Regions from separate parts of the Homo sapiens genome. Here all the other regions are reported to be linked to region 3. The links are microRNA targets in miRTarBase. Many come from high-throughput screens and were not tested one by one. Region 3 holds a microRNA gene; each other region holds the end of a gene's coding sequence.
The links. The annotated mature microRNA hsa-miR-3074-5p reads GUUCCUGCUGAACUGAGCCAG and lies in region 3 at 3,394-3,414, opposite strand. An mRNA with a match to its seed (bases 2 to 7 or 8) in the 3' UTR can be bound and repressed. Matches are read on the target gene's strand: a 7mer-m8 pairs with bases 2 to 8, a 7mer-A1 pairs with bases 2 to 7 and ends in A, and an 8mer does both.

Region 1: the mRNA of CDH13 is a reported target of hsa-miR-3074-5p. Seed matches in the 3' UTR shown: 7mer-A1 at 258-264 and 7mer-m8 at 479-485.
Region 2: miRTarBase lists FBXO31 as a target of hsa-miR-3074-5p. Seed matches in the 3' UTR shown: 7mer-A1 at 5,127-5,133.
Region 4: the mRNA of SLC6A20 is a reported target of hsa-miR-3074-5p. Seed matches in the 3' UTR shown: 7mer-m8 at 6,564-6,570 and 7mer-A1 at 6,433-6,439.

What each region holds. Positions count from the first base shown.
Region 1 is chr16:83,794,818-83,797,817 of GRCh38, forward strand. CDH13 (cadherin 13) reads left to right here. Exons shown (of 14, transcript NM_001257.5): 14 at 206-3,000. The coding sequence ends at 213. It overlaps CDH13-AS2 (CDH13 antisense RNA 2), which reads right to left. Exons shown (of 3, transcript NR_120308.1): 3 at 2,419-2,559. Among named protein-coding and RNA genes, the nearest start is that of CDH13-AS2, 7.7 kb to the right of the region's middle.
Region 2 is chr16:87,324,036-87,331,649 of GRCh38, forward strand. FBXO31 (F-box protein 31) reads right to left here. Exons shown (of 9, transcript NM_024735.5): 9 at 2,952-7,475. The coding sequence ends at 7,253. Among named protein-coding and RNA genes, the nearest start is that of C16orf95-DT, 10 kb to the left of the region's middle. RefSeq lists an enhancer at 7,212-7,614.
Region 3 is chr9:95,082,670-95,090,312 of GRCh38, forward strand. MIR3074 (microRNA 3074) reads right to left here and starts at 3,425; the gene lies at 3,345-3,425. It overlaps AOPEP (aminopeptidase O (putative)), which reads left to right. Exons shown (of 17, transcript NM_001193329.3): 16 at 1-50; 17 at 4,013-4,490. The coding sequence ends at 46. MIR23B (microRNA 23b) reads left to right here and starts at 2,539; the gene lies at 2,539-2,635. It overlaps MIR27B (microRNA 27b), which reads left to right and starts at 2,776; the gene lies at 2,776-2,872. It also overlaps MIR24-1. RefSeq lists an enhancer at 7,284-7,643.
Region 4 is chr3:45,752,269-45,759,148 of GRCh38, forward strand. It overlaps SLC6A20 (solute carrier family 6 member 20), which reads right to left. Exons shown (of 11, transcript NM_020208.4): 11 at 3,181-6,859. The coding sequence ends at 6,710. Among named protein-coding and RNA genes, the nearest start is that of SLC6A20, 41 kb to the right of the region's middle.

The sequences.
Region 1 (3,000 bases), not on the chromosome of region 3:
TTTCAGAGAAGTCCAGCTTTTTACCATATAACCATTCATTCTGTCTTCCAATGTGATCCTTAAGGAAAAAAAAAATTCCCCCATAGTCGTGTGATGTTTAAAATGTGTTTATTATACCTTGCCTGTCATTTTTCTGGCTTTTAGCTAAAATGTTTTGAATTGAGTGGTGATATTCCCGACTTAACTCTGAACCCTCTCTATTCAGGTCTGTGAGAACTCCTGACGTCTGAAGCTTGACTCCCAAGTTTCCATAGCAACAGGAAAAAAAAAAATCTATCCAAATCTGAAGATTGCGGTTTACAGCTATCGAACTTCACAACTAGGCCTCAATTGTTCCGGTTTTTTATTTTCTTTACAATTTCACTTAGTCTGTACTTCATCATTTTGACAGCATCTTCCTCCCTCCTTTAATTAATGGAATCTTCTGAATTTTCCCTGAATGTTTAAAGATCATGACATATGACTTGATCTTCTGGGAGCAGGAACAATGACTACTTTTTCTGGTGTGTTAACATGTCGCTAGCCAGTGCTCCAGGCACCCAGCTTTGTCTGTGGGTTAGTATTGGTGTATGTATGAGTATCTGTATGTATATATACACGGTATTTATAGAGAGAGACTATCCTGGAGAAGCCTCGTTTTGATGCCATTCTTCCTTGCAAGGTTAAGCAAGGTGGGTGGAAACTAAGACACCTGAACCCTCCAGGGCCTCCCGCATCAAGGTCAGCATGAGGACAGACCACAGAGCTGTCACTTTTGCTCCGAAGCTACTTCTCCACTGTCCCGTTCAGTCTGAATGCTGCCACAACCAGCCAGGCAGGTCCACAGAGAGGGAGAGCAGAGAAAGAAGTCCTTTCTCTTTATTGAGTTCGAGGACTACAACCAATTTACACTGCCATCTGATGCCGTGATCCTGAGCCAAGGAGGTGAGGAGCAGAGCAGGCAATTTCACCACCAAATGCCAAGAAAAGGGCTGACATTTTCTTTCATGGGCACCAACCTGCATTTGTATGTGTCCCGAATCCACAGTCGTACTGATTCTAATGGGGACACAGATCATGGTAGAGAATCTCTCCCTCCTCAGTAAATGTACAACTGCACCTGTCATCATGGAGGTCATACATGCATACAAAGAGGTGTACAGGTACCATCTTGTATACACATATATACCCACATGTACAGACATACATTTATGCACATTCACGCTGTTTGTTTCATATATACAGGCATAAAATAGAGTAAATACAGGTAGTTTTAAAAGTACCCTTTTGTGTGAATTGACTACCGTTGTTTGCAAACCCGAAAATAAAAGACGTTCATTATGTATGAAAAGTAACTGATTTGTATTCTGTGAGCATGTAAAAGCGGAAAGTTAGTGCTTGTTCTAAGATTACCTTCTTGTTGATAAACCATAAATGAATCATCAAAGCTCACACCAAATTTTTCTATCAAATAAAACTAGTGACAGCTTGTGGCTTTTTATTAGAGCTCGCCACGAACTAGGGTAAGGTGAGTGTCTTAGCATATTTTAATGCAGTTGCTTACTAAAGGTTTTAACCGCACATGCACACACACACGCTTTCTTATGCAATCTATGTTTGCACTTGTGCTTTCAGTTAGCCTTCTGTAGGAAGTAGAAGTCATATGTTGTCTTTGTTGTAGTGAAATTATACAGATAGAGTTCCATATATTGTATTTGTTTCAATGGTAAATCCTTTTGGAACATATAGAATGCAGAGATTTTTTTTTCCATTAAAATAAATGGGTATTGGTGGTTAAAACTGCTGGACAGTAACTGTTCTCTGATTTCTATCTTGTGTCCAATGTCACTGATGTTGGGTCTTGTCTTAGTGCAAGTTCACATTTTTGACAGACCATTTGGGGTCCGTCGTACATCTCTGGTTGGTGAGTGAGTCTATGAAGACAGAAGTACCAGTTCTCAGCATGGGCCATGGACTCATCTTGTCCACCTCATGATATGATCTGAGGGTGTCATAATCAGCTATAAAGGTAATTGCATACTCAAAGATGAGACGGACCATTCTCAGTTGATGACCACATTAAGCATAGTCATGGCCATCTGTCAACAGTCCCAAGACCTGGGGATTTTTCTCTGGAACAAATCCTGTTGCTGGATCAGGAGATGCCACACCTTGAACTTGATAGGGTCATTCTCCACGAGCACATGCCCCCGACTCAGGGACAGGGGAATCTAAGCCTGTGCATTCACACTCCACAAGATTTCCTCTACTGGCTTTACAGGGCACTGTCACGCGTCTCCCGGGCGCACCTTGCTCCCCTCTTCCTGCAAGGCAGGGGGAGAACGTTCATCCTTGAACAAACAAAGAGCATCCTCAGCCAGTCAGGCGGCTGGTAGCCGGACACATATGCTAACTGGCAATCAGGAAGTCACCCTCCAATGTAAACTTCAGCCACATGCAGGGAGAAACACAGCAGCTGAGTGGCCATTCACTCAAGGAAACAAATACAGCATGACTCCTTTTCTCTCAAGCTGGTAGGCTCTCCTGCACTTTGTGAACCGAACCAGAAGATTAACTTCGCTGAAAATTCAGAAAAATAGGAGTAAAGTGCACACTTCATTAATAAATAGAATATGCCTCAACTTTCCCTTATTTAAACATATTCTCTGTCCCCACAGTTCTAATCAGGACAGAGATACTTCTGTCATGTTGTTCCTCCTAATAGTTTCCAGAAAAAAAGGAAAATAAACCAATTCTTATAGGCCAAAGTGGTAGCATTTCCTGAATCATAAGATGTTTTGTTCATTTGCTGGAATATATTACATTGTTTACTGAAAACCATAGTAGAATCAAAATGTTATTTCATTATTACCTATGCATTTTATCTGAGTCCAACTTATTAAAAAACGAAGTCAAGTAAGGACCAGAAATTGCTTTTCCCAATTACTGAGCACAGGTCTGAGGGTTTTATTTCCACTGAGCAAATAGTCACACCTTCACTTCTTTTTATTAATACTCAAC
Region 2 (7,614 bases), not on the chromosome of region 3:
GTGTTTTTATATGAGAACCGAATTCAAGGTACTAGAAGTCCTCATATGGGAAGGGAAAAGTCGTGGTTTTATAAGCAATACACTCTGGCTGAGCCCAAGTTAAGATTTCCAGTCCAAGTTCATCAGCGCCTAGCTTCAGCCGGGACTGCTCTGGCCCCACTGCTGTGTGAGCTGGCGCTTCTGATTCCACCCCACACTCGGTGAAAGGGTCCCAGAGCAACTGACACTGAGCGTCACCGGCGGCGGCTCTTCCTAGAGGAGCATGTTCAGGAGAGGTGAGGCTGCGGGGCTGGGGCCCTGGGCTAATACTCCCTGGCTGTGTGACCCTGGGCAAATTACTCAGCCTCTCTGAGCTGCTGCTTCCTCTCCTGTGGAGTGGGCTGATCCCAGCCACACCAGCACTCCTGGTTGTTCCGTGGTTAATGTCTGCCAAACACGGTGCCATGGAGAACACCCAGCAGAGCCCAGCTGCTTGTTTGCTGGGGAGGGACAGCGCTGCAGGGGCGCCTCCCCCTGGCCCTCCAGCACCTTTCCACCTTGCTTCCAGGACCTCCGCGGCTCAGAGGCAGTGCAGGTGGGCTTCAGGGACGGCAGGGAGGGCCCACGCCGGCACACAAGGAAGAAGGGAAGGCGCCAGGGATCGCACCCCTCAGGAAGAAGAGGGACGGAGGCAAAGATAGGAAGGACACGCATTGTGCCTTCTGTCACTTGGGGATTTTCAAGTCAAAATGGGGAGGGGGCCGGGGTAGGTTTGGAAACTATCCAAATGGCATTTTGTTTCACATTGCTGGCTGGGGGCAAGCCCTCTGCAGTGACCCTACATGCCCACTAGAGGTCACACCACAAAAGGGGACCTCCCCTAAGGAGGGGGGACAAACGGAGGACCCTGGGCACCGTGCCTCCTGCAAGGGGAGGAAGGATGAAGCCCCGCCATCCATCGGGTGGGGAAAGCGCCATGCCTCCGGCAGCACAGCCAAGCGGCCCCCACAGGGAGGAGTGAGCTCCATATGGGCCCAGGTGACCCGGCCACAACACCCTCTCGGCCTCCGCCTCACCTGCTGGTGTTGGGCATGGCCAGCCTGGGCAGCCACCAGCCCTCGCTGCCCATCTGCTGTCCCCTCAACCCCAGCAGCAGACAGAAAAGTGCAGGGTCTGAGCCCCCGGGGGGATGCTGGTGTCGGACAGATCCCTGGAGAACAAAGCCTGTGCCCTTGTGTCTAGGTGAGGCTGCGGCACCCAGGCCCGGAGCAGGTCCCCCCAGCTGGGCCATCCCCACTCTTGGAGCAAGAGGGGAACTGCAGCAGGAAGCAGCCTTCTACTCGTTCCCCATGACCTTATTTTTTTTTTCATTTTAAAATAAAATATGTAAGAGAAACATATGAAAGACGCCACATTTAGTCCCTTATCAGATCCACACTTCCCCCTGTGACCTGGGAAATCGGGGTGCGTCTCCAGTCTGTGGGGGGCAGGGTCTCGTCCAGACAGGAGGCTGCATGGTGCTGCTTGTAGCAAGTGACTCGTTTGTGGTTGGCACGCCCAGTGCAGCTGAGGATGACCCCGTGGCTTGGCCCCAGGACAGGACCCAGGCCCCACAGAAAGGCCTGGAAACAGCAGCAAACCTTAGAGAAGGAAACACCCACCACCGGGGACCCACGATCCCCTGCTCTCCCCGGAGAAGGAAACACCCACCGCCGGGGACCCACGATCCCCTGCTCTCCCTGGAGGGCACCCAGGAAGCAGCCGCAGCTGGCAGGCTATGTGGCAACCCCGAGACCAGCGGAGATGGCAGTGGGTGGGCCTGCAGGTCACTGCCCCTGGGCACTGTGTCCTGTCTGAGGGGCTTGTTTCTGAACCACACAGAAAAGAGGGGGGGTCTCGTAATCCACGGTATCAGGATCAACAGGTGAACAGATGCTAGTTCTGCCATGCGATCCTTACTTTTTAAAGCAAAACAGTTGAAGTTCTACCCTCCGACACCCCTAGAAGTGACCACACCATTCCCACGCGTATCTTCAGCTTTTCCCCACACATGAATTGATAAAAATTAAGTATTTGCATTTTTACATGTTACACCAATACCATCTCTCACTTGTTTTGCAACGGAACAAGGCTGTGTGCCCGTCTGCCAGGTGACAGCATGGGTGGCTCCACCGTAGTCCACCTGCCTCCTTCCGGCCTGTGACAGTTGTCACAGTGTAGCAATGAACATCCCTGCGTGGCCCATGCCTGGGCTCTCGCGTTGCCCGAGGGTGGACACCTCAGGATGCAGATGCCAGTCCCTGGGCCCGTGTCCTTAGTGCCATGAGCTAGTACCAGCTGTCCCCAAAACAGCTGCCCCACCTGCGTTCCTGTTCCCCTGCATCACTGCCAACACTTGGAAAATCACACTTGCCAATTTCTGCCAATCGAGGGTGTACTTTGAGTGCATTACCATGGAAAACATCCTGTTTCTACAATTCCAAGCTAACAGCATTAATTAGCAGCAGTGACTCACGGGGAGGCTGGGATGAGAACAGGGGGTACTTTCACTGTCTATGCTAAAGAACTGTTTACAAGAACATATGAGTTTAGTAAACACAAAAGAAAGATCAATGAGATCCTCAGTTCATCTGCCTGGCTCTCAGCACATTCCCTCCCATATCTGTCCTCGTTGCAGATAATGCAACTCACTTTGGCTTAAATCTAAGAAAATCTACTGGGGCCCGAACTCCTCTGGGTCCCTGGGTAGGGACTCGAGACACCTCTGATGCCAGGTCAAAGGGAAGGACACAGGGACAACCACTGTCTGGGCTCCAAGGCATCCCTTCAATGCTCCCTTCTGTCAACGCGGGAAATCTGACACTTCCTCAAGAAGCTGGGAAGTCTGGGTTCCCAGGCCGACAGCTCGCATGGCTTAAGGCTCTCGCCTCCGTCCAACTCATATTCCCAAAGAAATCACAAAACACACAACAAGCCTTCAAAAACGGATTTACTTGAAACTGTGAGGAGAAACAAGTGCACGGGTGCAGGTGGCGGCTGCCAGGATTGCTCCGGTCCTACCTAGTGGGTGCCTACCCAGGCAGGGCACAGCTCCTGCTGCAAGGTCACCTTACCAGGGGGTGCAGAGGTGCTCATGATCAGATGGCACAGCGCTTTCCTAATGCAGGCAGGCTACATGGCCCCCAGAAACAACCAAATGCAGAATCAGGCCAAAACCCACACAGCCCTGACCCCCTCGTGCTCTGGCTGGTCTCCCGGTCAGCAGCCCCTGAGGGCCGGCAGGCAGGCCACTGAGCTGTGGGTGACACAGGGTAGTCCACGGTTTGCACAGTCTCATTCCCATTCAAAGACAGGCCCCAAGGCTGGGGCGCAGGGGCTCACGCCTGTAATCCCAGCACTTTGGGAGGCCGAGGCGGGTGGATCACCTGAGATCGGGAGTTCGAGACCAACCTGAGCAACATGGCAAAACTCCATCTCTACAAAAACAAGTTAGCCAAGCATGGTGGTGGTGGGTGCCTGTGGTCCCAGCTACTTGGGAGGCTAAGGCGGGCAGACAGCTTGAGCCTAGTAGGTTGAGGCCTCAGGGAGCCATGATCGCCGCTCTGCACTCCAGCCCAGGTGACAGAGCAAGACCCTGTCTCAAAAAACAACAAAAAAAGTACCAGCCGCATGGAGACTATCTGCTGCTTGCATCTTCTCTAAATAATTACGGGGATGAGGAGTCCAGTGATGTTCCTGGTCTCTCCCCAGAAGTACAGACAGGTTGGGCCACGTTAACACTGGACTTGATCATGATTCCAGGAGTTTTATTCTCAGGACAGGTGATGGTTCTATGAGCACATTCCCGTAAGTGTTCTTAAAAGTTACACCACGAAGGCAGCAACCAGAATAGAAACATCCTAAAAGAGCCTAGCTGCTTTCTGCAGCACCTTGGACGGTGGACCACAGCTCAGCATCTCCTGTTCGCACCCAAGACCCCACGGCCATGAGGACAACACGAGCTCAGAAGATGCATGTGGGCAGGCGTTCTGAAGTAACAAAGGGGCTGAGGAGTTTCTGCTGCTGTCCGTGACTGCCCACGAGCACTGAAAATGGCCTAACCGTGTGCAGGTGAGAAAGCCTGGGGGTGAACACGCCCTGAGGAGTCAGGGAAGCCAGAGCCAGCGGCTGAAGGGCCCTTGCGTGCGGCTGCAGCACAACTGCAGGTTCTCAGAGAAAAATCTCCAGCTCAGACCCGGTTCTGCACAAAGCTCAGAATGGAGCGGCCAGCAGGGCATGTGGCTAGAGGAAGGACATGGCCACCCACCCCTCCCTCCTCGTGTGCCAGGTGGGCTTGCTAGGGGCACAGGTGCCCAGTGTCAGGGCAGGGATGCCACAGAGCCGCAGGCAGACTGAAGGGGCCCAGGGCATGGTCAGGAACGAAGAAGGAGGGAGCCTGAGGCTCTCCCACCACCAGGCCTGCAAAGCCACTCACACTCAGCAGTGGACACTTGAGGTCACGGCCCAGGTGGGCTGAGGGACCCCAATACCACCTGCCTTGAATCTCAGCCTGCAGAAGTCGTTTGCAACTTCCTCATGCAAATGAACATTCAGTGCCGGCACAGAAAAGCCTCCAATGACCTCTCTGAAATCTTCAATCACATCATTTCCAAACAAGTGACAAAGAACACGTTCAGGTGTGCAGAGCTGCACTGCAGGCAGCCCCACTCCAGAGAGCAGACTTGATCCTGCCCCAGAGTGAGACAGCGACAGAAAGGCATCCGTGGTGCAAAAGATGGAGAGTCCCAACCTCCCAACTCCACCTGCCACCTTCCCCAATCAAGCCTAATGCGCTTGGCTGTCCTGAACTGGGTTACTCAGCCTCCTCCTTGGAAACGGTTTTATCCAACTCTCAGCTGCCCTTAGGCCTCTGATGACGACATCAGCCCTTCCGAGTTCTCACCTGCAGGAAATGGGCCACCTGCAGGATCCCCTGAGAGGGTGGATGCCCTCCCCCGGAAGGGAAGCTGCTGTTTTGAGGCGCGCAGATTCAGTGCCTGTCCCTACAGAACCGGAGCCAAGAACTGGCTAAGGACACATCGGAGCGGAAAAAACAAGACCTGTAGTCACGACTGAAGGGACTGGCTGTGCGGCCAAAAAGGCCTCCCTTTCCTGGCTGTGTGGCTCTGGCCCTGCCTGGCATCACTGCAGGTCACCACCATGGAGAGACCCCCGCCCCCAACATACACACCAGAACCAGGAGCCACATGAACTGACCAACAGCCCATGGCTGAGACATGATGGGTGGAAGCTATTTCTATACCCAAACACTGGAAGCGTAATTGAGATCTGAGATTCCTTTAATCAGAAGCACGTGCGTCCCACAGTGTGCTCTTCAAGCCCCAAAGGGCACGCCTCTAGGACTGCGTCCCTTAGAGCGAGGCTCGGGCTCTTGGTAAAAAAGCATTTGCTTGATTTTATTTAAACAATGGTGAATCTTCAAGGTGCCAGTCTACATGCCCAACAGTCCTCCAGGCTTCAAGGCCACAGTCACCGTCACTCAGAGACTGCCTCATTTGGCAAGAGAGAAAAACAGTGACCACCACAGAGGGCAGGGAGTGACAAAGCTTGTAGGCTAATGCTGCAAAAGCCGCTAGAAACTGGGGCCACACACAAGAGCCAGCAGGTGCGCCTCGGGGTCTGCGTGGCTCCCGCTGCTGCCGCCCTGGAAGGGCGCTTTCTCCACTGGCTTTTCTCGTGAGTCTTTCTCCCAGGCCGGCCAGATTACCATTTAGGAACCTTTGCCAATTCTCTGACTCTGGGAAGCAAAGTAAGCATTTGCCAAATGCACTGAGGCTGGGCAATGGGAATTCTTATGTTCTTTAAAGGCCAGTCAAGGAGAAATTCATCAGGAAAACATTTCCCAGGACATCCTCAGGTTGGTCTCCACACCAAGGCACACAGACTGTCACCTTCCCGAGGTCCCTCACCAGCAGGACGTGTCCAGGGTGCCCAGCACAAGGACTTGGAGCAGCCCAGACACAAGGACAAGCGGCAGAGAGGGAAGGCTCGCTGGGGACGCCCACTCGGGCACGGAGCTGGCTGTGGGCTGGGGGAAGGGCCAGCTCTGGACACCGTGCTCTCTGTTCTTCAGGAGATGCCAACCTCAGCCAAGACCTCAGATGGGGTCCCCACACGCAGGTGTTAACACAACATGGGGCACACAGCAGTGGAGGCATCAGTCCATGGGGTCTCCAGGCTGGAGGGTCCCACTTTCCAAAGTGTGTCCCCAGATGCAGGTGTGGCTTTTCTAGAAAGCTGTCCCCTCACCTGCAAAGGGGTTTCCTCGTCATCTCATATGGGCACTCCTGGCACCTGTGTGGACCACTCACTGCTTCAGACACACGGGCCTGGAGCCTTGCGTTCTGGAGACAGTGGCCGGCAGCTTGGTTTTGACGCCGTGTGCGTGCAGGGAGGAAGGCATGGACAAAACAAACGCCCTGTCTGGAACAGGCCGTCGAGGACAGTCAAGTGGCTGGAACGATGGCCTTGGCTCCAAAGCTGGAGGGGCTGGGGCAGGTGCATGGGCTGGGCTGTGCATTCAGGTGACATTCCCTAGTGACTCAGGTCACTAAACCCACTCCACAGGTGGGGAAGCTGAGATCAGAGGTGAAATGCTTCTGTCCAAACTCCAAGCAAGCCGGTAGAGAAATGGGGATTCACTCCAGAGTCCCGGCCCCAAGCCTGAGATCCTACCAACTTCCCGAGCTTGCTCTGCGTACTGTGCCCATCACACCTGCGCTGCCTGAGCTGTTCGCCTCTTCCTGACCCCCTCCCAGAGGCCACTGTTGCCTGGCTTCCCCCAAAAGGAGTGGGGTGGAGCACATGCGTCTCACACACGACCCAGTCTATCACTCTATCCGCTCACAGGAAGAGCACCAGTCAGGAGGGTCCTGCTTCCCGAGAAAACCACCAGCCAGCCCAGGGTGCGGGAACCCCACCGCTTCAATTCTCACGCGGTCCCACGGCTGTCCCCTACATCTGCTGTATTCAGGCTCGTTCTCTCTGTTTTTGGTAAGACATGCTCAGCTTCTTCCATCATGGCACTGACAAATATGCAGGTCTATGTCACACTCTCTACATAAAGTGCTGGGGGGTGGCTGGACTGGGCCCCCCGACGAGGTGTGCGTTCTGGTCAAAAGGCCGGATTTCCAAAGTGCATGCTGCTTCTATTCACAGGTCAGAGTTCAGAGCCCCAGAGCCACCCGGGATGTGGCGGCAAGGATGTGGCCGGTCAGGAGGTGAGGGACTGAATGTTCTTGAGCATCTCATCGAAGGCCTGTGGGGACGGCGCATCTGCGTTCCGGAAGGTGGCCTGGACCCGGCTGTACAGGCTGAAGGATTTCAGCTCCAGCCAGACGAACCCGAAGCGGTCCTCATCGAAGAGGATGAAGACCCCGGGGGTGCGTTCAGGGCTGGTGAAGCCGTGGCCCGCGATGAGGCCTGTGCCATAAAAACTGAGCAGAAACAAGAGGGAAACTGTGAGCTGGGGGAGGGCTGAGTCAAATGCACGCCACGTACAGCATTCTGCGACCCCGCTCTGTGCCGCAAGAGCCACATCCACTGTTCATCAGCCAGAAGCTGACTCCCAGAGCC
Region 3 (7,643 bases):
GATGGATAGGTCCTCAGCCCAGGTGGTGGCCGAAATGTTATTTTAACGAGGTGATTCTCTCCCTTTCCTTTCTGTCATTTAGTTCTAACCAGATACTCCTTTTAGGAGCCAACTAAATCAGTAAGCCGAATAGTTAGCCAAGACTACCCGCAGCATCAATAGTCGGCTCCCTGGCCCAGGGCCTGGAGAGTAACTGGCCAAGTGGGTGCTGGGCTGGTATGGGAGCCCCGGGTCCCTGGAGCACCTTGCCTGGCTGTGGCAGTCACCGGGAAGCAGAGGCTGTCCACCTGGAGGCACAGCGGCACTCCTTGGCACTATTTTGGCCACTTCAGGTTTTATAATCTGTTGAAACAAAAATTGTGGGGGAACATCTTGAGTAGGTTTAGAGATGGAATGGGAAGCCTGGCAGAAGCGCTGGTCCAGTCTTCAGGGTCACGGCTGATACAGGAGTTTAAGCGGCCGTGTGACTCCAAAGCCTAGCTTCTGCAAGCAGATGTTTTCTTCTAGCCATGTGTGAATTGGAGGTTCCTTGGGCTGTCCACGCCTGGTCATCGGCTGGCAGGAGGCTCTCCAGGCACACGCAGCACACACAGCACATGCACCACACGTAGCACACACACTGCATGCAGCACACACACACCAGAGGACGCACCACACAGAGCACGCACAGCACACACCACACAGCGCACGCACCACACAGAGCACACGCGGCACACACAGCACACACAGCGCACGCACCACGCAGAGCACACACGGCACATGCAGCATACACACCAAACAGCGCACGCACCACACAGAGCACACGCGGCACACGCAGCACACACACCACACAGAGCACCTGGAGCACCCACAGCACACACACCACGCAGAGTACACGCGGCACACACACCACACACAGCGCATGCACAACACAGAGCACACACAGCACATGCACCACACGTAGCGCGCACACTGCATGCAGCACACACACCACACACAGCGCGTGCACCACACAGAGCACCTGCGGCACACACAGCACACACCGCACGCACCACACAGAGCACATGTGGCACACACAGTGCACGCACCACACAGCACCCGCGGCGCACACAGCACACGTGGCATATGGCCTCCATGACCCTGTGTCTTGAGGGCAGGTCCTACTTTTTGCTTTGTTGTGTTGGAGCGGAATTTCTCCCCTGGCTTCTATTGGAGTCCTAGATTATTTAAATCACTTCCTCTGTTAATTGTGCCTGGAATTAACCTGTTAGATTTACTTCCTAGCAGTTAGTTGCTCAGTATGGGTTTCTACACTATTAAAGCAACCTAGCGGTAGTACACAAGGTTTTGTTAGGATAGCTGTGAGATTTTTTTTCTCTAACAATCATCATTATTTCTGTGTCTGCTCCGTTTTTCTTCAGTGTTTTATATGATATTAATAGGGGATGTCTAATTTTGTATCTTTAAAAAAACTTTATCAAATCTGAAGCATTTTTCGTGTTATAGCTTCTCTATAATTTTTCATGGATATTGAATATTTGGTGTTGATATTCTTCACTCAGTTTTGAACATTGAGTTTTCTTCTAATGTTTTGTGCTTATGAAAACCATTTCTGTGTAACGTGTTTAAGTAGCTTATTTATCTGAAAGAACTCTAATAATGAAAAGAAATAAAAAGTTTTTCAGAAGCATGATCATATTCTTCCAGAAGAGTCAGGAACCATGTGTGCCAGGAAAGGGAAACGGGACTGAGCGTCTCGTAGCGAAACGCCTGCTGCAGACTTGACGCGGCTCCCCTCCAGGACGGGCTGGCGGCACACAGACTGTGCACTTACCTCACTGCCGGCCTCATAATAGTAATCAGTGTAAATGGTGTTTCTCTTTCGTTTTGTTATTTCGTGGCGTACGTGTTAAAGTGTGTGAAACTACAAGGCCAGCTAGTCCTTTCATCATTCCCTTTGGTGCAGGTTTTGGAGCAGCACCACAGGGCACACCCCTCGCCACTCTTTATGGGGAATTTTTGCCCAGGCAGGCAAAGGAGTCATCTTGGTCACAAGTCTCCCTTTTCCCCCTCCCCAGCATCTTCGATCCTGTCCCCACCCCTCCAGATGCATCCAGGGGTTGCAAGCCTGCCCCCCAACCAGTCCCCGTGAGGAACAGTGGCCGGGATTGTCCCAGGGCCCCTTCCAGCAGGGGGACCTCCTGACTTGAGAGTCCCCAAAGCCTTCCCAGGGCAGCTAGAATCTGCCTGGAGAGAAGGGATCTTGTCCCCAAGGGTTAGAGGCAGTAAACTAATAGCAAGGACAGCTGCCTTTAGCAATTGTGTGTGTCGCATGGCCGGTCCCTGCATTTTTCTTCAGTTCCAAAGCTGCACTGGCATTTTTATGGTCATCTCTGGAGTCCCTTTGATTCAAGAAATTATACCTCTAGGATGCCAACTAAACGAACAACAAACAGAAACTCCACCTGTTTGCTAGCATAACAGGCGTGAAGGCGGCAGTGTCGCCGGCGTCCTTCCGCGGAAGCCCAGTGTGTGCAGACAGCACGGGGTGGCGCTGCTCTCAGGTGCTCTGGCTGCTTGGGTTCCTGGCATGCTGATTTGTGACTTAAGATTAAAATCACATTGCCAGGGATTACCACGCAACCACGACCTTGGCTGCTCCTCCAGAAACCGTGGTCGCGCTCACTGCAGATTGGAGAACAGGTGCATCTCGTAGCTCTTCTTTGGAAACAAAAGAAGCCACCAGCTGAGGAAGATGCTCACCGGTCACCGTCCCTTTATTTATGCCCAGCGATGACCTCTCTAACAAGGTGCAGAGCTTAGCTGATTGGTGAACAGTGATTGGTTTCCGCTTTGTTCACAGTGGCTAAGTTCTGCACCTGAAGAGAAGGTGAGATGGGGACAGTTAAGTTGGAGCCGCTGGGGCAGAGGCCGTTGCTGACGGGCCGGCCGCTGCTGCACAGTCAGCTTGGGTGCGGAGCGCGATCCTGGAGGATGAGAGACCACTTGACCCCAAGGATGCACTGTCTCCTGCTGGGAATGCTAGCCATGTACTGAGTCCTTAAGTCTGTCCACAGAAACATGCACTAATCGGACATCTGTCTGAAAGGTCAAATGTATTGAAAGTTGCAAAAATTCTTCTTACAAAAAACTAAAACCAAATGCATCACCTAAGTCGTGTGAAATCATGTGGTAGCTCATGGCTGTGAGCGGGGCGGGGCGGGGCTTTCGGAGGAGCTCCTGTTGTTCTGGGCGCGGTGAACTCTCTCTTGTATTTGCAGTCCAGGCCTTCGCGTCTCCTGCGCCAGCAGACGGTGCCCACGGAGCTCCCAGCTGAGGCGCTGCTTCTCCGGGCTGTCGATTGGACCCGCCCTCCGGTGCCTACTGAGCTGATATCAGTTCTCATTTTACACACTGGCTCAGTTCAGCAGGAACAGGAGTCGAGCCCTTGAGCAAAAAGCCTTCGTGTCTGTAAGTGCCCGAGGCTCAGGAGAGCTGGGGCTCCCACTCGCGGCAGACAGGCCCGCGTCCACCCTGCGTCCACCCCGGCCCGGCGGCAGCACGGTGCCAGTCATCTGCATGTGCTCCTGCGGCGTGGGGGTTTGTAGACTTGGAAAACCCTGTTGGCAGAAAGTTAAGAGCTCCCAGGCCTGAAGGCAGGACACAGTGCCAGCAGGGGGCCGTTTGCCCCCATGTGTAAGGGAGGCAGGGCCCAGCTCTCCCACGGCGAGGTGAGCTGAGACTTTCTGAGAACAGTTAGAGTGGGTGCGTGTCTGAAATGGGTACTCCTAGCAGCTATTGTGTACGCAAAGCCTGAGTACAGCCTGCTGGTGTCATGGCCACGTGTGAGCAGGCCAGCGTCACACGGCTCGCTGTGACCCGTCCCGGAGACTGAAATGGGCCTGGGTCTTCTCCTTGTCCTGTGATTAAAGTCCTCTCTTGAAAGTGGAGAGCAAAGGCACACAGAGGTGCGCGCTCACAAGAATTCCTCCCGGTGACTGGGTAATCAATGTTACTGCTGTTTCCTTTGCAGGAAAGACCACAGCAAGATTCTTTCATTCGTCTCCTCCTAGCCTGGGGGACCAGGCTCGAACTGACCCTGGACATCAAAGGAGGGATTATGTGGCTGCTAAAGCCATCGGCCCACAGCCCTGTTCACATCTTGGTGCTTCTCTTTCCCAGAGGCTGGTCCCAGCCAGGCACACACAAAAGGCAGATTCTCGTAAACGCAGCCTCCCTCCCTGGAGGCTGCCTCCTGCCCTGGATCTGGAGTGGAGCTGCTCTGAGATTTTGAGTTCTTCTGCAGAGATGATTAAATATATCCAAGAGACATTGGAAAACCTGCTGAACATTTTACATTGGTCTGCTCAGCACATGGCTGGATGCGGATATTTCTATAATTCCAGAAAGTCACACAGCTCCTCTGTATGAGACCAGTGGGCGCCATTTAAAAGAACAGGATGAGAATCTAAGATATATTATTAATAAATGTAATGGATTTTTTTTTTGTATACGTGTTTGCTTCTAAATTTCATACTGTTTAAAAATAATAAAGGCCAGGTGCGGTGGCTCATGCCTATAATCCCAGCACTTTGGGAGGCCGAGGTGGGTGGATCACGAGGTCAGGAGATCGAGACCATCCTGGCTAACATGGTGAAACCCTGTCTCTACTAAAATACAAAAAATTAGGCGGGCGTGGTGGTGGGCACCTGTAATCCCAGCTACTCGGGAGACTGAGGCAGGAGAATCGCTTGAACCCAGGAGGTGGCAGTTGCAGTGAGCCGAGATTGCGCCACTGCACTCCAGCCTGGGCGACAGAGCAAGACTCCATCTCAAAAAAAAAAAAAAAAAAAAAAAAAAAGCACGTACAAGAAAAAGGTATTCTCCACATTCTGGTGTTCCCCCCCCACCTCACTAGTTTCTTTGTTGTTTTCAAGGTAGTGTTAGTTCTCTTAGAAGCCTGAAAACAAAAGTAATTTGGCTGCGCGTGGGGCACCCTCTTCCGATAAAATGGAGAGCCTGGGCATATTCAGGCATCGTGGGAGTCTGGTGGTATGATTTTTCTTTCTCCACAAGGTTTAGGGTATAGACAGAAGCTGGGCACTGAGCTTCCTTGGCACTGTCCATGGGGCAGAATGTTTGAAAATGCCTGGAGAAGGCTGTAGGAACGGGTGCAGCCATGGGCCCTGTGCCAAGTTGGGCTGAGCATGAGTGCACCTGAACACACCCACAGTCTCCTCTGCCTGGCTCCAGGGGGCAGCACAAATTCTGGCCTGTTTGGGGTGAAGTGGGGCTCTACCATGGATCTCATTAGAAGCTCTGGACTGGGAGGCCTTGGTCTCCAGAACTCTCTTTTCTTGTCCCAGTGACTGATTCCAGAACGTTCTTAGGATTTGCTCTCTGCTGTCACATGCCTTTGCGTGGGACTGTATAGCTGGCTGTGCCATCGTGGAGGATGGCTCAGAACTTGACTGTTATGTTTGAATAAATACACGACCGCGGCTTCCTGTGGAGATTTAGAATGAACGATGCTTTCTCTCTGTGTGCTGCTGCCTTTTTTTTTTCCTTCCTTTCTTTTTTTTGACAGTTTCACTCTTGTTGCGCAGGCTGGAATGCAATGGCACGATCTCTGTACACTGCAACCTCCGCCTCCCGGGTTCAAGCGATTCTCCTGCCCCAGCCTCCCGAGTAGCTGGGATTACAGGCTCCCGCCACCATGCCCAGCTAATTTTGTATTTTTAGTGGAGATGGGGTTTCACCACGTTGGTCAGGCTGGTCTCGAACTCCCGACCTCACGTGATCCACCTGCCTCGGCCTCCCAAAGTGCCGGGATTATAGGCGTGAACCACTGTACCCGGCCTCTCTCTCTCTCTCTCTCTGCGCTTTCTAAGTGTGTTTGGCTTTCACTGAGGCAGAGCCAGGAAGGACCGTGGGAGTACCGGCCGCACTGCCCTGCGAGGCTCCCACTCCCACTGTGTGCAGATGCTTGGCACCTGGAGCTCTCAAGAGCTGCGGGTGGCTCACCGGCCCAGTGGTTTGGGGTGACCTTGCTTTTCCAAAAAGTGAAAGCCATGCTTTATCTTCTTTAGAAACCACTAAAGCAAAGCTGAACTGCTGAATAGGTGGGGTTCTGCACAAAGACCACTAATCCCCTGGCTCCTGTGAGTCACCGGGTCTTGTGACTTGCTTTGACCACCGGGGATCTGGCCAGTGGGTGGCATAAATTTGGTGGACCTCATCAGAACCGGACATTGCTGTCACGGATTTGACTGAGGTCCTGCCAGGAGTCGGCCTTTGCTGCCTCCAGACCTGGGGGCACCCTGCCCGTGCTGGGGCTGCCCCTGGAGGTGAGGGAGGGAGGAAGCCGGAGAGCAGCTCCGCCACTCTCTCCAGGCAGGAGGCTCCCCGAGGCTCTGCAACTGCCCTCGCCGGCATCCTTCACCCGTGCCTCAGCTGACTCTGAATGGGTTCTGCTAGCTGCTCCTCTGGCATCTCCTAAGAGACTTGAGAGAACCTCCACCCAGGGCCTGGCAGAGAGGCCTCTAGATTCCAGCCTGAGAGCAAACCGGGGTCTCGGGGTCAGTAGGAGACAGATGTGACCAGTACTCTTCCATTTTTAAGTGAAGTATCACATCAGAAACTAGCTCAGATCAAAGGGCGTGTGACAACTGAGGCTAGAACGCTCACTGCCTTAGCCCAGCCATAGCACCTTCGGAGAGCAGGGCTGTCTGCACGGGACATAGTAGTTTTGGATGAAGACGGGCTGTCTGGAAGAGCAGGATGTGGGTGTGCTGGGGAACCTGAGTTCCCACTGTGGATTCATCTGCCAAGTGGCAGGGTTTGAACGCAGGTCCACATGGCTCAGAGCTTTCCTCCACGCCACAATGCCTCCCCAGCTGTGGGCCCTTCGTTGACATCTGCTGAAGCCTCCGTGTCCAGGCACTCCTGGGGATACTGTCTTGTCACACTCAGCAGCCAAGACTTGAGAGGCCCCCCTGGGCCTTCACTCCTAATCCAGTCTGATGGAAGGGCAGGCTGGGTGGGGGCACGGGCTGCTTTGGAAAGCATGGAAACCTGAACTTGAATCCGCCAGTTAAGTGCTGTTTCCCAGCCTCAGCTCAGCAGCTCCCCGCGGCCGACCCATGGGTGGGACCTGTCACAGGTTCTCAGTTAATCAGATGTGAAGATATTAGCTCCCCCCACCCTGCAACAGGCTGTAAGAAACTGACAGGAACAACCTTCTTTACCAACAAGCCAGCGCCTCCACTGAACAGACGGACCCAGGACTGGAGGGTCCCCACAAGACACATCAGCTTCCTGTCTAGGTAGAAGCCAAGAAACACCTGCTCACAAGGGGCTTTCTTAGGCTCTAAAATGACTTGCAGATGCCATGGGATGGGGGAGCCCCATGGCTATGCCCTGAGGCTGCGTGGGGCTAAACGGCACTGAAGGGCCACTGAGGGGCTGGAGGGCAGAGGCCGCAACACGCCACCCTGGCCCCTGTGGCCTGCAGCCACTAGCAACGTCACAGGGCCATCTGTCCCCTGAGTGGTAGGTACGAACAGTTAACTGGGTTTGCCAGGTTTAATAAAAGATCAGGGAGAGGCAGCAAGTTAATGGGTTAATTGCCACTGTCCTCCAGGAGAACAAACGGATGCCGGGTC
Region 4 (6,880 bases), not on the chromosome of region 3:
CCTGAGTGTTGAATCTGATGGCCCCTCAATTATAAATTTTAAAAATCTCATCCAGGTGGTAATTCCTTAAGAGCCATGCACACACACATGCACATCTGCACACACCTGCTGAGAGATCCGGGTAAGTCTACGAGTGGGGAGTCTTCCCTGGTGTCCAGCGCTCATCCTTTCCTGCCTCTGGCCTCGTTCCTCTGGGCTGGACATCCATGCAGAGGCTCCATGATGTGCTCTCACTGGGGGACCAATTAGTAAGGGGCTGTGACACGTTTAAGTGAATTCCCTGGTCCCAGGTGAAGGAGTTAGATGATCTGTTTGTTCCTAACACTTGCCTTGGTAGATTATTCTGAGCATGAATTTGCTTTTTGTTTTTGTTTAGTCAAAGGTTCAGGTGTTCATCTTTCTCCATTCACCATTTTCAGTGATGCATGCCTATTGCCCTTTATTCTAGTTGTACAAACCTAAAGTACCATCCACTAAAATACTGTGTTAACATTTTATGTCCCAAATCAAGCTCCTATTATAGTTGGGTTCAAATATAGACTAACATTAGGAAAAGTAGAAAGTGTTAAGTGGTAAGTCATGTTTAGCAGAATTTATGATGTTCTCTCTGAGCTTCTGGGACCACACATTCTCCTGGGTTTTGTTTTTGTTTTTTGTTTTTGTTTTTTGTTTTGAGACAGGTTCTTGCTCTGTCACCCAGGCTGGAGCGCAGTGGTGCAACCTCTGCTTCCCAGGCTCAAGTGATCCTCTCACCTCAGCCTCCCGAATAGCTGGGACTCCAGGCATGCATCACCAGGCTTGGCTAATTTTTGTATTTGTTGTAGAGACGAGGTTTTGCCATGTTGCCCAGGCTGGTCCCCAGTTCCTGGCCTCAAGCGATCCGCTGGCTTGGGCCCCCCAGTGTTGGGATGACAGGTGTGAGCCACCACACCTGGCTGCTCCATTCCTTGTTAATCTCTCCTCTCTACTTCACAATGCTGTGAGTCAGGAATTCAGGCAGAGTTTGCCTGGGTGATTCTTCTGTTCCAGATGGCACTGATGGAGGTGACTCAGTGGCATTCATTTGACAGATGGGCTGGTCTGTCTGGCCCAAGCTTGTCTGGTGCCCAGGCATGGCTGGAAGGTGGACTCAGCTGGTCCTGTGAGCTGGAGTACAGCAGCCTCAGGGTGGTGGGGCTTCATTCATGGCAACTTAGGGCTCCCCAGGTGAATGTTCCAACAAACCAGGTTGAAGCTGCATGGCCACATGATCTAGCCTTGAATGTCAAATGGTGTCCCTTCCATCATATTCTTTTGGTTGAAGCAATCACAAGCCCACCTAAATACACAGACCCTATCCCTCCGTGGGAGAGGTGGAAAATCACATGTGGCCATGTCCGAAAACACATTGGAGTTCCTGTAGGCCTTGGTCGCAGGCCCTCTTCTTTGTGTATACTCACCCTGGATGACCTCATTTAGACCTGTGGCTTTAAATAGCATCTCTCCACTGTAACTCCCAAATGTATATCTCTAGCCCAGACGTAACCCAACCTCCAGATTCTTGTGTTCAACAGGTTACTGGATATTTCCACCTAATTCACAGACATCTCAAACTTCACATGGTCAAACCACTCTTGATTTTTACTCTGCAGGCCAGCTCTGTTCCCCACTTTCCTCATCTCCGGAAATGGCACCAGCATCCCCCCAGCAGGTAAAGCTCTTTATCCCCCTTTCCCTCAGCTGGGAATCCAACCCATCAGCAAGACTTGGCAACTTTCCCTCCAAAGTATAACTCAAGCTTGCCTATTTTTCTCCATATCCATTCCCACGTCCATGCTGCCATCATCTTCCATGGCTTTACTACAGTAGATTCTGGAGTGATTTTCCAGCCTCCCTTTATGCCCCGCTCCCATCCATCCTCTATGGCAACAGTGATCTTTCAAACATAAATCAGATCTTGCCAGACCCCACAGTGAACCCTCAGTGGCACTCTCTTTCTCTTCAACGAAAATGAAGCTCCTTGCTGTGGCCTGTGAGGCCTTATGTGATCTGGCCCCTGCTCCCTCCTCCAAGCTCACTTCCCATCGCTCACTTTCCCATTCCAACCACAGGCCTCCTCTCTGCTCTTTCCCTCCTCAGGGCCTTTGCAGTTGCTGTCACCTCTCCTGGACAGGCCTTCTAGGAATTTTAATGACTCGTTCCTTCTTCTTCAAATTTCAGTTCACGAAGTTCCTCAACCGCTTAAAGTACTGTCCTGTTAACGCCACCACATCGGGCCATTTATTTCCTTCTTAGACATGATCACAGTCTGTAATCATATGATTTATTTGTTATGCATCATTGTCTGTCTCCTTTTCCAGAATGTAAGTGCCATAAAGGCCAGCGACTGTGTCTATCCTGTTCACCATTGCCCCCGGCGCATACCAAGGGACTGGTTTGTAATATACTAGTTGGGTAATCTCAAAAAAGGCTGATCCACCCACCCTACAGGAGGGTGAATAATAGAAAAGTGATCCACATGTAAGAGACTGGTCAGGAAATTCAGGTTAAGAATTTGCTATTTGTAGATGCAATTTTTGCCTTGCAAAGGGATGTGTAAATCTGTTATTTTTTTCTTCCCCTGACTGATGTAGGGCAGAAAATCGGCTTAGTTAATTCTCTACCCCAGCTTTTCTACCTATAAGGTGGCATAAGTTAATTTTTCCATGTAAAGTAACTCATACAAAAATCAAATACAATAGTTTACACACTCCCCCCTCTGAGGTGAGGCTCTGAGGTCACATTCAAACCTAATGTGGTTCTGCATGGCCCTGGCCAAAAAGAGACGCTGAGATGGGCAAGACTGCCCGGGACACTCTCAAAAGGAGTGGCAAGATTCTGCAGCAATTCCAAGGGGCTCACATTCTGTTTTAAATCCGGCCAATTAGAAATTTTTTTTCTAACTTTTCTTGTGGACTCTATCTATCTCTCATCTTCCCATGATAGACTTCATCCACTGCATTGGTGCGGTCTCACGGGTTATATGAAGAGGTAAACGCAGAAAAGGGTGACAGAAAAAAAGGTTGGATGGATTTGTCCCCCCCACTTATTTTCCATTTTTTCAAAATTAGCTTGTGTTTCTACATGAGAGAAAATCTTGTGTTGAGAGAAGTCTTAAACTGTATCCAGTAAGTGACAAAAGCAAAACCCAAAACCAAAAACTGTAGATACACTTGCTTAGAGTTTTATTTACTATGACAATTGCTAAAAAACAAATATTTCCCTACTCAATTTCTTGGAGCTAAATCAAGGTTTGCTATGTTTCCAGTAAAAACAGAAAGCTTTCCGGAGTCCATGATCTGGCCATCGTGTCATGGCTACCACTAAGGGTACAGGGATGGAATGTCCCTTTGTCGCTCCAGCTTATTGGAGGGTGGGTGGACAAATGTCGACATGGCCACTTTTGTGCAGTATCTAGGAAATGGCAAAGAACATTTTTTGAGACAGGATTGATTACTGGCTCAAGAGGATTCTTGAGAAATGTTCTGCTCTTCATGAAATTCACAGAAACGAGACATTTTCATCTGGAGCACATTATTCTGTAACAGTGGTGCTTCATCTGTTTGAGTTCCATGAGCAAAAACTATTCCGTAGAAGTAACTCTTCCATATAATTGGAAATGCTCAAAAATGCCTTCAAATTTTTAAGTCATTTTATAAAATGTAAATACTCCTCAATGTACCACCCATGTTCTTTCTTTTTTAAATGGGGCCTCTCAGATTTGGCTGCACATCGGATCACCTAGGGAGTTTTTGGGGCCATGGAGGCCCAGGTCTTGCTTCCAGAAGGTCTGATGGGTGGCCCCAGGGTGTGGTGTGGGCATCTGGAGTTTTAAATGCTCCCAGGTGGTTGGAATGCGCTGCAAGGTGGGGACACTGAATAAGGTAATGATCTAGGACATTTATCTTTTCACTCCTGAGGCTACCTGGTATTCAAGGCTTACGCACCCTGACTGATGACTGATCCCAGGTGGCCCTGAGTTGTAAGACGGTGACTGTGAGTGGGGATTGAGAGGAGGGCCAGATCCTCCAGGATTCAGAGCAGACTCGGTGCTGTGTTTGCCATTGAGTGTGCCGGCTCTTCAAGCCTTGACAGCAGGTTTTTTGACATAAAAGAACCTTCTGATAAGAAGATTGAATCCACGGGGTAGATAAGATTAAATCCATGGGGTACATGCTGGTTCATACATTTGAAAGTCAAATGTATGATAACTGGACAATCAGGTGAAGCTGGAAGATGAGATGGTTGCTGAAGACAGTAGAAGACCTTTCTAAAGCCTATTTTTGCTGTAAGAGAATTTTACAGCACAAAAATAAAAAGACATCTCCGGCCAACGTCCCAGGTGAGTGTTTGTGTCTTCAAAGATATCTGTGCAAATATATCCACAGAAACTCTCCAGAATTCCATGATCTCAAGGAAGCACTGGACGTTAGAGCAGGAAGGGACTCGCTCACTTTAGGGGTAACGACCTACTTTATTGCAGTTAAAAAAAGAAAAATTTTTTTGAGAAAAGAAATAAGACACAGAGACAAAGTATAGAGAAAGAACAGTGGGCCCAGGACCGGCGCTCAGCATGTGGAGGACCCGCACCGGCGCTGGCCTCTGAGTTCCCTCAGTATTTATTGATCATTATTTTTACTGTCTTAGCGAGGGGAGTGTAGCAGGGCAACAGGTGGGAAGAAGGTCAGCAGGGAAACATGTGAGCAAAGGAATCTGTATCACGAATAAGTTCAAGGAAAGGTACTGTGCCCAGATGTGCACGTAGGCTAGATTTATGTTTCTCTTTACCCAAACATCTCAGTGTAGCAAGGAGTAACAGAGCAGTATTGCTGCCAGCATATCTCACCTCCAGCCACAGGGCGGTTTTCTCCTATCTCAGAATAGAACGAATGGGAATGGTCAGCTTTTTACACCGAGACATTCCATTACCAGGGACAAGCAGGAGACAGAAGCCTTCCTCTTATCTCAACTGCAAAGAGGCCTCCCTCCTTCACTATTCCTCCTCAGCACCGACCCTTTACAGGTGTCGGGCTGGGGGACAGTCAGGTCTTTCCCTTCCCATGAGGCCATATCTCAGGCTGTCTCAGTGGGGGGGAAACCTTGGACAATACCCAGGCTTTCTTGGGCAGAGGTCCCTGCAGCTTTCTGCTGTGCATTGTGTCCCTGGTTAATCGAGAATGGAGAATGGCGATGACTTCTACCAAGCATACAGCCTGCAAACATATTGTTAACAAGGCACATCCTGCACAGCCCTAAATCCATTAAACTTTGATTCATTACAGCGCATGTTTCTGTGAGCACAGAGTTGGGGCTAAAGTTATAGGCTAACAACATCTCAAAGCAGAAACAATTTTTCTTAGTACAGATCAAAATGGAGTTTCTTATGTCTTCCTTTTCTACACAGACACAGTAACAATCTGATCTTTCTTTTCCCCACATGGACTAATGCGATATCATAGATATGGTGTGTCTTCAGTTACAAGATGCTCTGTTTGAATTATATACATTTTAGAAAACTATGTACAGATGAATAATTTAAAATTAATTGTAAGTGGTATTTGTGGTCTTGATAGAGTTGGCCACGATGTCCAAATGTAATATTAAGCCTATGGGAAAGTCAGAGCCACTTTTTTTTTTTTTTTTTTTTGAGTCAGAGTCTTGCTCTGTCGCCCAGACTGGAGTGGAGTGGCATGATCTTGGCTCACAGCAACCGCCACCTCCTAGGTTCAAATGATTCTTGTGCCTCAGCAGCCAGAGTAGCTGGAATTACAGGCCTATGCCACCACTCCCAGCTAATTTTTTTGTATTTTTAGTAGAAATGGGGTTTCGCCATGTTGGCCAGGCTGGCCTCAAACTCCTGACCTCAAGTGATCCACCCACCTTGACCCCCAAGGTGCTAGGATTACAGGCGTGAGCCACCGTGCCCAGCTGAGATCCACTTTCATTCTCACCTCACAGTGGCTCCTGACTCCTTTTCCAATGCACCAAGACACACACCACGGAGGGATGTCTGCACAGACTTCTAATGTGGTTTGGGGTTGCAAACTGTAGTTGGGGCAATTTTTTGTAGAGAGGTCTGGTCCTGGACCCACCGTCAGAGACCTTAGAGAAAGGATCCCTTTGGGGGTCCCAGACAAAGATCTTCTTTCTTTATAACTTGTCATCCTAAGATTTAAAGGGTGGAAGGGGAACACAGAAATTGCATATTCACTACAACTCAAAAAAGAAGAGAATTAATTTTGCACCACTGACAAATAGGTCATCTTAGGCACTTCAAAACTCCTTAAATGGATCTAAAAATATTTGTCCTCTAATATTTTGGTGTCTCTTCAGCCAAAAACAAAAATTGCTTAAATTTGGTCCCATAAGAATTATAGTCATATTTCAGTTTGCAATGTGCCCTAATTCTAGGGCTTTCCTGGAATGAAGGATGCAGTTATCTTTGAGACCGGCTTTCATAGCCCACCCCCTTCCATGATGAGGAGGCAGGTGACAGGGAGGAACAGCCACCACGGGAGGGTGTGCGTTCTCCCAAGGGAGTTTTCTTCCTGCACACCTTCCTCATCTTCTTTAGACACTCAGGAAGTTGATGGGCTGAGCACTCCTGGCTTAAGCATTTGAAAAAGCAGCCGAGGAGTTTCCGCCTGTAAATAGTATCTGTAAAACCGTGAGCGGCTGGGAAGCCCACATCTCAGGCCACGGGGTCTGCGTCTCCCCTCTTGAGGCGACGCTGAACAAAAGTCCCCAGGGCCGCCAGGGGGATGCACATGGTGGAGGAGGCCACAAGCAGCCCGATGACAGCCAGTGCATAGGCCGGGTAATCTTTGGTCACGAGCTGGCCCTGAAAGGAGAGACTGAGTGT